2 separate regions of the Homo sapiens genome follow, and region 1 is linked to region 2. The links come from fine-mapping of genetic effects on gene expression. Tissue or cell type: regulatory T cells. Region 2 holds a variant in brackets; the other region holds the start of a gene. All regions are shown on one strand. Distances are from middle to middle.

The links. PIP is the estimated chance that this variant, and not a neighbour inherited with it, causes the effect.
Region 1: it holds the start of ACP5, and the variant in region 2 is the best candidate, but not a certain one, in a credible set for the expression of ACP5 in regulatory T cells (Bossini-Castillo 2019, PIP 0.86).

What each region holds. Positions count from the first base shown.
Region 1 is chr19:11,574,896-11,579,229 of GRCh38, reverse strand. It overlaps ACP5 (acid phosphatase 5, tartrate resistant), which reads left to right and starts at 1,585. Exons shown (of 5, transcript NM_001611.5): 1 at 1,585-1,637; 2 at 1,913-2,173; 3 at 2,387-2,514; 4 at 2,642-2,987; 5 at 3,978-4,334. The coding sequence starts at 1,913. The coding sequence ends at 4,220. It overlaps LOC124904638 (a long non-coding RNA gene), which reads right to left and starts at 3,981. Exons shown (of 2, transcript XR_007067140.1): 1 at 3,877-3,981. RefSeq lists a silencer at 126-315 and enhancers at 1,266-1,405, 875-1,486, 1,487-2,099.
Region 2 is chr19:11,607,493-11,611,883 of GRCh38, reverse strand. All of the region lies in intron 1 of ZNF627 (zinc finger protein 627), which reads right to left. Among named protein-coding and RNA genes, the nearest start is that of ZNF627, 12 kb to the right of the region's middle. The variant T/G (reference allele first, on the strand shown) is at 2,090.

The DNA of each region.
Region 1 (4,334 bases), 33 kb after region 2:
ATGGGTGCCCCCAAAGGGTCCCAGGCAGATGGAGGCTCCTGGTTGGCGTGGAGGAAGGAAAAGGATGAAATCGGCTCCCCTGGCCACCCCTTCTAGCCCAGCTGCAGCTGCAGTCCGTGGGTCTGAGCCGACCCTTGGGGTTCATCGGCCCATTTTACAGATGCGGAGCCTACAGCCGGGAGGCGTGGCGGCTCTGGGCGGTGCAGGGTTCCGGGGCGGGGAGGCCGAGGCGCCCGCCCTCCCCGCCGGGGCTCACCTGGGTCAGCCCTGAGCCCTCGAGCAGGGCGGATCGGCCGCTGCCTGCTTAAAGCTGGGGCCGCCAGGAGTGCGATCGCCTGCGGATCTGCAGCTGGGCACCGGCCGCAACGCCCGCCCCGCGACGGCAGGTGAGATGCGGGCGGCCCCGTGGGAGGGGTCTCTGCCTGTCCTCGTCACCCACTTCCTTCCCGTTTGTTGCTGCTGCAGGGCTGGGAATGGGGGGGACCAAGCACTTCGCAGGGTGACCCGGGGAGATCTGTGAGCCAGTGGCCTCAGCGTTGAATGAGAGCTCTCTCCCGGGTCCGCGCTCGCAGGGACTGAAGGGACTCCTGAATGTCCGCGGGACGTGTCGCGGCGGCGCCCAGCACGGAGGAGGCAGGCAGGGAGGTGAGGAGCAGGTCAGACCGGCCGCAGGTGCAGGGCCTCCTGCCCTCCCAGGCTGCGGTCCCGTGGAGGGCCTGCAGACAGCTGCTGAGACTATGAGGGTCAGAGGTCTGTGGTCACGCGCGCTATCACCAGCTAGCTGCCTCCTGCCTGGTTCCTCCTGCAGGAATGGGAGTCTGGGGGGAGGGGAGGGTGTGGGCAGGACTTCCTGGAAAAGGGAAGCCCGTTGGTGTTTATGTGTGGGATGGAGAGAGGGCAGGGGGAGGACGGGGACACACGCGGAGTCCCCCACCCAGATGTTGTCAAACACAGCTCCCACACCAGACACGCAACCCATCCTAGAGATGCAACCCAGGCACACACACATGGACACACACAAAACTCCATCCATAGGGATTCCCACCCAGTGCCACGTGAGAACACAGGCGTGCATCGCAGACAAGCCACACAGGCCTCGCAGGCTCAGCATACATGTCTGCAGCAACACCATCAGGTACAGAGCCGAGGCCCAGGTAGGCATGCTCAGCTGCACGCAGGAAGCAAGACACACCCAGACACACACAGGTAAGCCCTTACTCAGAGAAAGAAGGTGCAGGAGATGTGTCTTGGGTAATCACAGCCACAGCCTCTCAAGTGTGCACACACACACACACTCACACTGAGATACACAGACACACAGAGATACCTGGACGTGTCAAGCCTACAGCACAAACAGGCCCCTGCAGGTCCACCCGGAGGCTGTGTGGGCCGAGGCTGCTGCACACGTGTGCCCAGATCCTCCCACCCCCACCCCAATCCCGTGTCCTGCTCCAGGGAAGTCCAGGGCTCACATGACCCAAGGGGAGGGCTCCCGGGACAGCCCTCGGAGAAACTGCATCATCCTCACTAATGATCCACTTCCTCCTCAGGGAATAAAGGCTCAGGGACCGGCAGTTCTACTCTAGAGCCCACCAGCCTCTCAGAGCCTCCGGTGACTGGCCTGTGTCTCCCCCTGGGTGAGTGCTGGGCAGGCTAGGTGGAAGGAGGGTGAAATGGGCCTGCAGGGCCATCTTGGTACAGCTCGCCCTCTCACAGACCGCGCCCCCCTTCCCTAAGCCAGCTTGTGCAGCCTTGTGCAGCTTGTGTGTCCTGAGAATTAGGGCACCAAGGGGTTCCCGCAGGGGCAGCCTGCAGCAAGCAGTCTCCCTCTATCTCAGGGCAGGCGGGGGTCTCAAGGCCTCCCTGCCCTTGTCACAGCCCGGGCCACCTATGCTTGTCTCTCTTCTCCCAGATGGACATGTGGACGGCGCTGCTCATCCTGCAAGCCTTGTTGCTACCCTCCCTGGCTGATGGTGCCACCCCTGCCCTGCGCTTTGTAGCCGTGGGTGACTGGGGAGGGGTCCCCAATGCCCCATTCCACACGGCCCGGGAAATGGCCAATGCCAAGGAGATCGCTCGGACTGTGCAGATCCTGGGTGCAGACTTCATCCTGTCTCTAGGGGACAATTTTTACTTCACTGGTGTGCAAGACATCAATGACAAGAGGTTCCAGGTCTGTGCCCAACAGAGTGGGGCAGGAGGTGGGGGCGGGCAGTGGGGAGAAGCCGCCTTACCTAGTGACCTTCCTTTGGTGAGGGCAGAGGGAAGGTGATGGGGCACCTTTGGGCGCCGGGAGCATTCAGTGTCTCCCTTATCCTGACTTGGTGGGAGGATCGGCATAGCCACTGACCCCAGGGAAGAGGCCTGCCCTATCTGTTTGCTACAGGAGACCTTTGAGGACGTATTCTCTGACCGCTCCCTTCGCAAAGTGCCCTGGTACGTGCTAGCCGGAAACCATGACCACCTTGGCAATGTCTCTGCCCAGATTGCATACTCTAAGATCTCCAAGCGCTGGTGAGCCACCCTCAGCCCTGCCTTCCGAGATCCTCACATAGCAGGGACACAGGGGCCCTGTGGCTTGAGCTGACCCTGGGACTTCTGCGCCCAAGATGTGCACCCACGACCTCTATCCCCTCCACAGGAACTTCCCCAGCCCTTTCTACCGCCTGCACTTCAAGATCCCACAGACCAATGTGTCTGTGGCCATTTTTATGCTGGACACAGTGACACTATGTGGCAACTCAGATGACTTCCTCAGCCAGCAGCCTGAGAGGCCCCGAGACGTGAAGCTGGCCCGCACACAGCTGTCCTGGCTCAAGAAACAGCTGGCGGCGGCCAGGGAGGACTACGTGCTGGTGGCTGGCCACTACCCCGTGTGGTCCATAGCCGAGCACGGGCCTACCCACTGCCTGGTCAAGCAGCTACGGCCACTGCTGGCCACATACGGGGTCACTGCCTACCTGTGCGGCCACGATCACAATCTGCAGGTGAGGGCCCTGTGGGTGGGGTGGGAGCTGGGTGAGGGGGGTCCCCATCCCAGCTGATGTCCACATGGCTGGGGTCCTCCTGCTGTTTGAGGGTCTCCTGTGGCCTTCAGAATGTCTAGACTGTCCCTCAAATCTTGCTGTCTAACCAGGAAAACACTCCAAAGCCAGAATAATATCTTCGAATTGCCAATTTCTTTCTTTCTTTCTTTTTTAAGCTCTTTTTTTTTTTTTTTTTTGGAGACAAGGTTTCATTGTTTTTCACCCAGGCTGGAGTGCAGTGGTGCAATCGGGGCTTACTGCAGCTTCAATCTCCCGGGCTCAGGTGAACCTCCCACTTCAGCCTCCAGAGTAGCTGACACTACAGGCATGGGCCACCACATGCAGCTAATTTTTGCTTTTTTTTTTTTTTTTGAGAGGGAGTGCAGTGGCACGATCTCAACTCACTGCAACCTCCGCCTCCTGGGTTCAAGCAATTCTCCTGTCTCAGCCTCCCAAGTAGCTGGGATTACAAGCATGGGCCACCAAACCTTGCTAATTTTTATATTTTAGTAGAGACGGGGTTTCACCATGTTGGCCAGGCTGATCTCGAACTTCTGACCTCAAGTGATCTGCCCGCCTCGGCCTCCCAAAGTGCTGGGATTATAGGCATGAGCCACTGCACCTGGCCCTTGCGCATTTTTTTTGTAGAGGCAAGGTCTCACTATGTTGCCCAGGCTGGTCTCAAATTCCTGGGCTCAAGCAATCCACCCCCTCAGCCTCCCAAAGTGCTGGGATTACAGGCATGAGCCACCACACCTGGCCACCAATTTCTTACTAAGTGCTCTACCTATGAAATAGGATTAATACACTCCTAAAAGTCAGGAAATTGAAGCCAGGAGGGGTTACATACCTCAAGGTGACTCTGTGGTTAGGGCCAGATCGAGCCCTGGACCTTAGGCAGGGCTCTGCTCAAAGCTGGGTCTCCACTGACCCCTTGTCCTCCATCCTCAGTACCTGCAAGATGAGAATGGCGTGGGCTACGTGCTGAGTGGGGCTGGGAATTTCATGGACCCCTCAAAGCGGCACCAGCGCAAGGTCCCCAACGGCTATCTGCGCTTCCACTATGGGACTGAAGACTCACTGGGTGGCTTTGCCTATGTGGAGATCAGCTCCAAAGAGATGACTGTCACTTACATCGAGGCCTCGGGCAAGTCCCTCTTTAAGACCAGGCTGCCGAGGCGAGCCAGGCCCTGAACTCCCATGACTGCCCAGCTCTGAGGCCCGATCTCCACTGTTGGGTGGGTGGGCCCTGCCGGGACCCTGCTCACAGGCAGGCTTTTCCTCCAACCTGTGGCGCTGCAGCAGGGC
Region 2 (4,391 bases):
AACATACCCAGTTTTTCCCCAAAACAGGAGACTCACAGCAACCAATAGGAAAGGGCCCAGTCAATCTCAGCTGGCATAATAAGGACGTCCCCTCTGCTTTACCCTTTCAATAAAAGTAACCTGATGTTAACCAGTCTGCTTTGTTGTTGTTCTGTTTCTCTTGTTCCTTACAAAACCCACCCTTCTGTCACGCCCAGCGGGAGCTCTTATTCTATTTTATAGAATGGGATGGTACCCCAATTCATGAATTGCAAATAAAAGCCAACTGGATCTTTTAACTCTGTTCTAATTTTCCTTTTTAAACAAAAACACACAGCAAAAGTTTCTATTGGGTCTGGCATTGATTTCTTGGATAAAACACCAGAACATGGTTCACAAAAGAAAAAAAAGACAAATTTTATTTCATCAAAATTAAAAACTTGTGTAGGCCAGGCAGCTGGGGGAAGAGGATTCCTTGAGCCCAGGAGGTTGAGACTGGGGTGAGCTCGGATCACATCATCACTGCACTCCAGCCTAGGCAACAGAGCAAGACCTTGTCTCTAAATAAATAATTCTGTGTCAGAAGACACTATCAACACTGGGAAAAGGCAACCAGGGAATTGTAAAAAGTATCAGCAAATCATATATCTGGCAAGGTGTTAGTATCAAGAACATATAAAAAACTCCTATGACTCACAATAAAAATCAACCACTCCAAAGAACAAGTGTTGGCAAGAAGGTCAAGAATTTGGGGTCGGGCACAGTAGCTCACACCTGTAATCCCAGCACTTTGGGAGGCCATGGCGGACAGATCACTTGAGGTCAGGAGTTGAAGACCAGCCTGGCCAACATGGTAAAACCCCGTCTCTACTAAAAATACAAAAATTAGTCAGGTGTGGTGGCACATGCTTGAAGTCCCAGCTACTCCAGAGGCTGAGGCAGGAGAATCGCTTGAACCCAGGAGGTGGAGGTTGCAGTGAGCTGAAATCACGCCACTGCACTCCAGCCTGGCCAACAGAGCAAGACTCAGTCTCAAAAAAGAAAGAAAATATTTCAACAAAGAGTTCAGTGATCTAATTGGCTATTATTAGCGAGTCACGAATCAAGAAGCATCCCATCTATGAAACAGAAAGGCGCTCCATAAGTTTGTTGATCTAAAAGGAAGAAACTTAGGCAAAATCAATACAAATGGACAGTCTATTGGGGCCAGAGCTGAGGACTGCAAACCAGGAGTACAGATTCAAGTTGCCCTGAATATATACTCTAATTAGCAGCAGTTACACAAGGTTTTGTTGTTGTTTTTAGACAGGGTCTTACTCGGTCACCCAGGCTGGAGTGCAGTGGCGTAATCACGACTTATTGCAACCTCGACCTCCCTAGGCTCAGATGATCCTCCCACCTCAGCCTCCATAGTAACTGGGACTGCAGGTGCACACTACCACATCTGACTGTTTTATTTTTATTTTTTGAGGAAAAAAAAGGGCAGCAACTGCTTGAAATGTCATAAAGTAAACAAAAACCCTGAAGCTACCTGAGCCAACAGATTATGGCTGAGACATATGATAGACCATCTAAAGCCTGGGAAGAAAAGCTGAGGAGAAAAATTTCTTTCAGAAATTAGGATACTCAGAAAAACCCAGGTATGCTGGGGAATTGAGAATGCCCCCTTCATGTCCAGGAAAGAACGCATTTCCAGAAAAGACCTTTTCTGGGCTCAGAAGAATTCAAAAGACTTGAATTCAAAAGAATTGCTTGAACCCGGGAGGCGGAGGTTGCAGTGAGCTGAGATTGTGCCACTGCACTCCAGCCTGGGCAACAAAGCAAGACTCCGTCTCAAAAAAAAAAAAAAAAAAAAAATTCAAATCCCACTTTTCAACAAAAACAAAATCATAAAGAAGACAGAAAAATATGGCTCATCAATGGGAAAAAATTGAGATAAACCATCTTTGAGAATCTCCAGTTATTGCGCTCACTGGACGAAGACTTTAAGCAACCGCCTTAACTATGCTCAAAGTAGTAAAGACAACCATGGAGAAAGAAATAAAGAAAACTAAGAAAAGGATGCATGCAATAATATCAACAAAAAATTACAGGCGCGGTGGCTCACGCC[T/G]GCAGTCTCAGCACTTTGGGAGGCCAAGGTGGGCGGATCACAAGGTCAGGAGTTAGAGGCCAGCCTGGTCAACATGGTGAAACCCCGTCTCTACTAAAAATACACAAACATTAGCCGGGCATGGTGGCAGGCGCCTGTAATCCCAGCTACCTGGGAGGCTGAGGCAGGAGAATTGCTTGAAATCAGGAGGCGGAGGTTGCAGTGAGCTGAGATCATGCCATTGCACTCCAGCTCTGGGCGACAGGGCAAGACTCAGTCTCGGGGGGGAAAAAATACATATATATATATATATATATATATATATATATATATATATATATATAAAATTTTTTAAAAGACTACCCAGGAAGTACGGATCTGGAAGATGCAAAGCACAACTAAAATGAAAATTTCTCTATAGGTGTTCAATGGCAAATTCAAGCAAGCAAAATAAGAATCAGCTAACTTGAAGATAAAATTAACCACCTTGAAGAAAGAAAAAATAAATTTGAGAGAATGGGAACAATTGCTGGAGTTTGGTTGCACAACAAGGTGAGTATAGTTAACACTACTAAACTGTACACAAAAATGCTTAAGATGGTAGATTTTTAATTGTTTTTATAGCCACAATTAATAATAATAAATTGTTGGACATGGTGGCTCACGCCTATAATCCCAGCATTTTGGGAGGCTGAGGTGGGCACACAGCTTGAGCTCAAGAGTTCAAGATCAGCCTGGACAACATGGCAAAACCCTGTCTCTACAAAAAATACAAATATTAGCTGAGCATGGTGGCATGCCCTCTAGTCTCAGCTACACAGGAGGCTGAGGCAGGAGGATGGCTTGAACTCAGAAGGCGGAGATTGCAGTGAGCCGAGATGGCACCACTGCACTCCAGCCTGGGTAATGCAGCAAGACCCTGTCTCAAAAAATAATAATAATAATAAGTTATTGTAATAAACCAGCAAAAAACACATTGATTAGAAAATGGGCAAAATTGGCTGGGCATGCTGGAACACACCTGTAATCCCAGCTTCAGGAACCTAAGGCAGAAGGATCTTGAGCCCAGGCGTTCAAATCCAGCCTGGGCATCATAGCTCTTTCCAAAAAAAAGTGAAAATAAAAATAAATAAATAATAAATGGGCAAAGAACTTGAATGGACATTTCTCCAGGATATATACAAATGGCCAATAAGCACATACAAATATGCTCAACACCACGAATCATTAGGGACACAGATTTTACACAATGTAATTTCAAATGGCTACTCACCACTTGAATAGCTTTTGTCTCATGTAAAATATACACTGACAAAAAGATAAATCTTTAAAATTGTTATTTATTATTCTATGGAAAATTATAAATAACTAAAATATTACAGCTGCTTCAAACCTAGCATGGGGGAGACATAATTGAAGATAATGTCAACTGGAGAGGGGAAGTTGACATCTGGGATTGTGGCAAGGGAAACCAGAAACTTAGGAACTTATTTTGACCCTGATACGGTTTGGCTGTGCCCCCACCCAAATCTCATCTTAAATTGTAGTTCCCATAATCCCCACATGTTGTGGGAGGGACCCGGTGAGAGGTAATTTAATCATGGGGGCATTTCCCTCCATGCTGTTCTCATGATAGTGAGTTCTCACGAGATCTGATGGTTTCATAAGTGGCTTTTGCCACTCTTCGCTCTGCACTTCTCCTTGCTGCCACCATGTGAAGGACATGTTTGCTTTTTCCTTCCGTCATGATTAAGTTTCCTGAGGCCTTCCCAGCCATGCTAAACTGTATGTCAATTAAACCTCTTTCCTTTATAAATTATCCAGTCTCAGGTATGTATTTATTCACAGCGCAAGAATGGACTAATATAGTAAATTGGTACTGGGTAGCGGGGTGCTCTGCCGTAAAGATACCTGAAAATGTGGAAGCAACTTTGGAACTGGGGAACAGGCAAGGGTTGGAACAGTTTGGAGGACTCGGAAGAAGACAGGAGAATGTGGGAAAGTTTGGAACGTCCTAGAGACTTGGAGGGCTCAAAAGACAGGAAGATGTGGGAAAGTCTGGAACTTCCTAGAGACTCCTTGGATAGCTCTGACCAAAATGCTGGTAGTGATATGGACAATAAAGTCCAGGCTGAGGTGGTCTCAGATGGAGACGAGAAACTTGTTGGTAACTTGAAGCAAAGGTGACTCTTGTTATGTTTTAGCAAAGAGACTGGCGGCATTTTGCCCCTGCCCTAGAGATCTGTGGAACTTTGAACTTGTGAGAGATGACTTACGGTATCTGGTGGAAGAAACTGCTAAGCGGCAAAGCATTCAAGAGGTG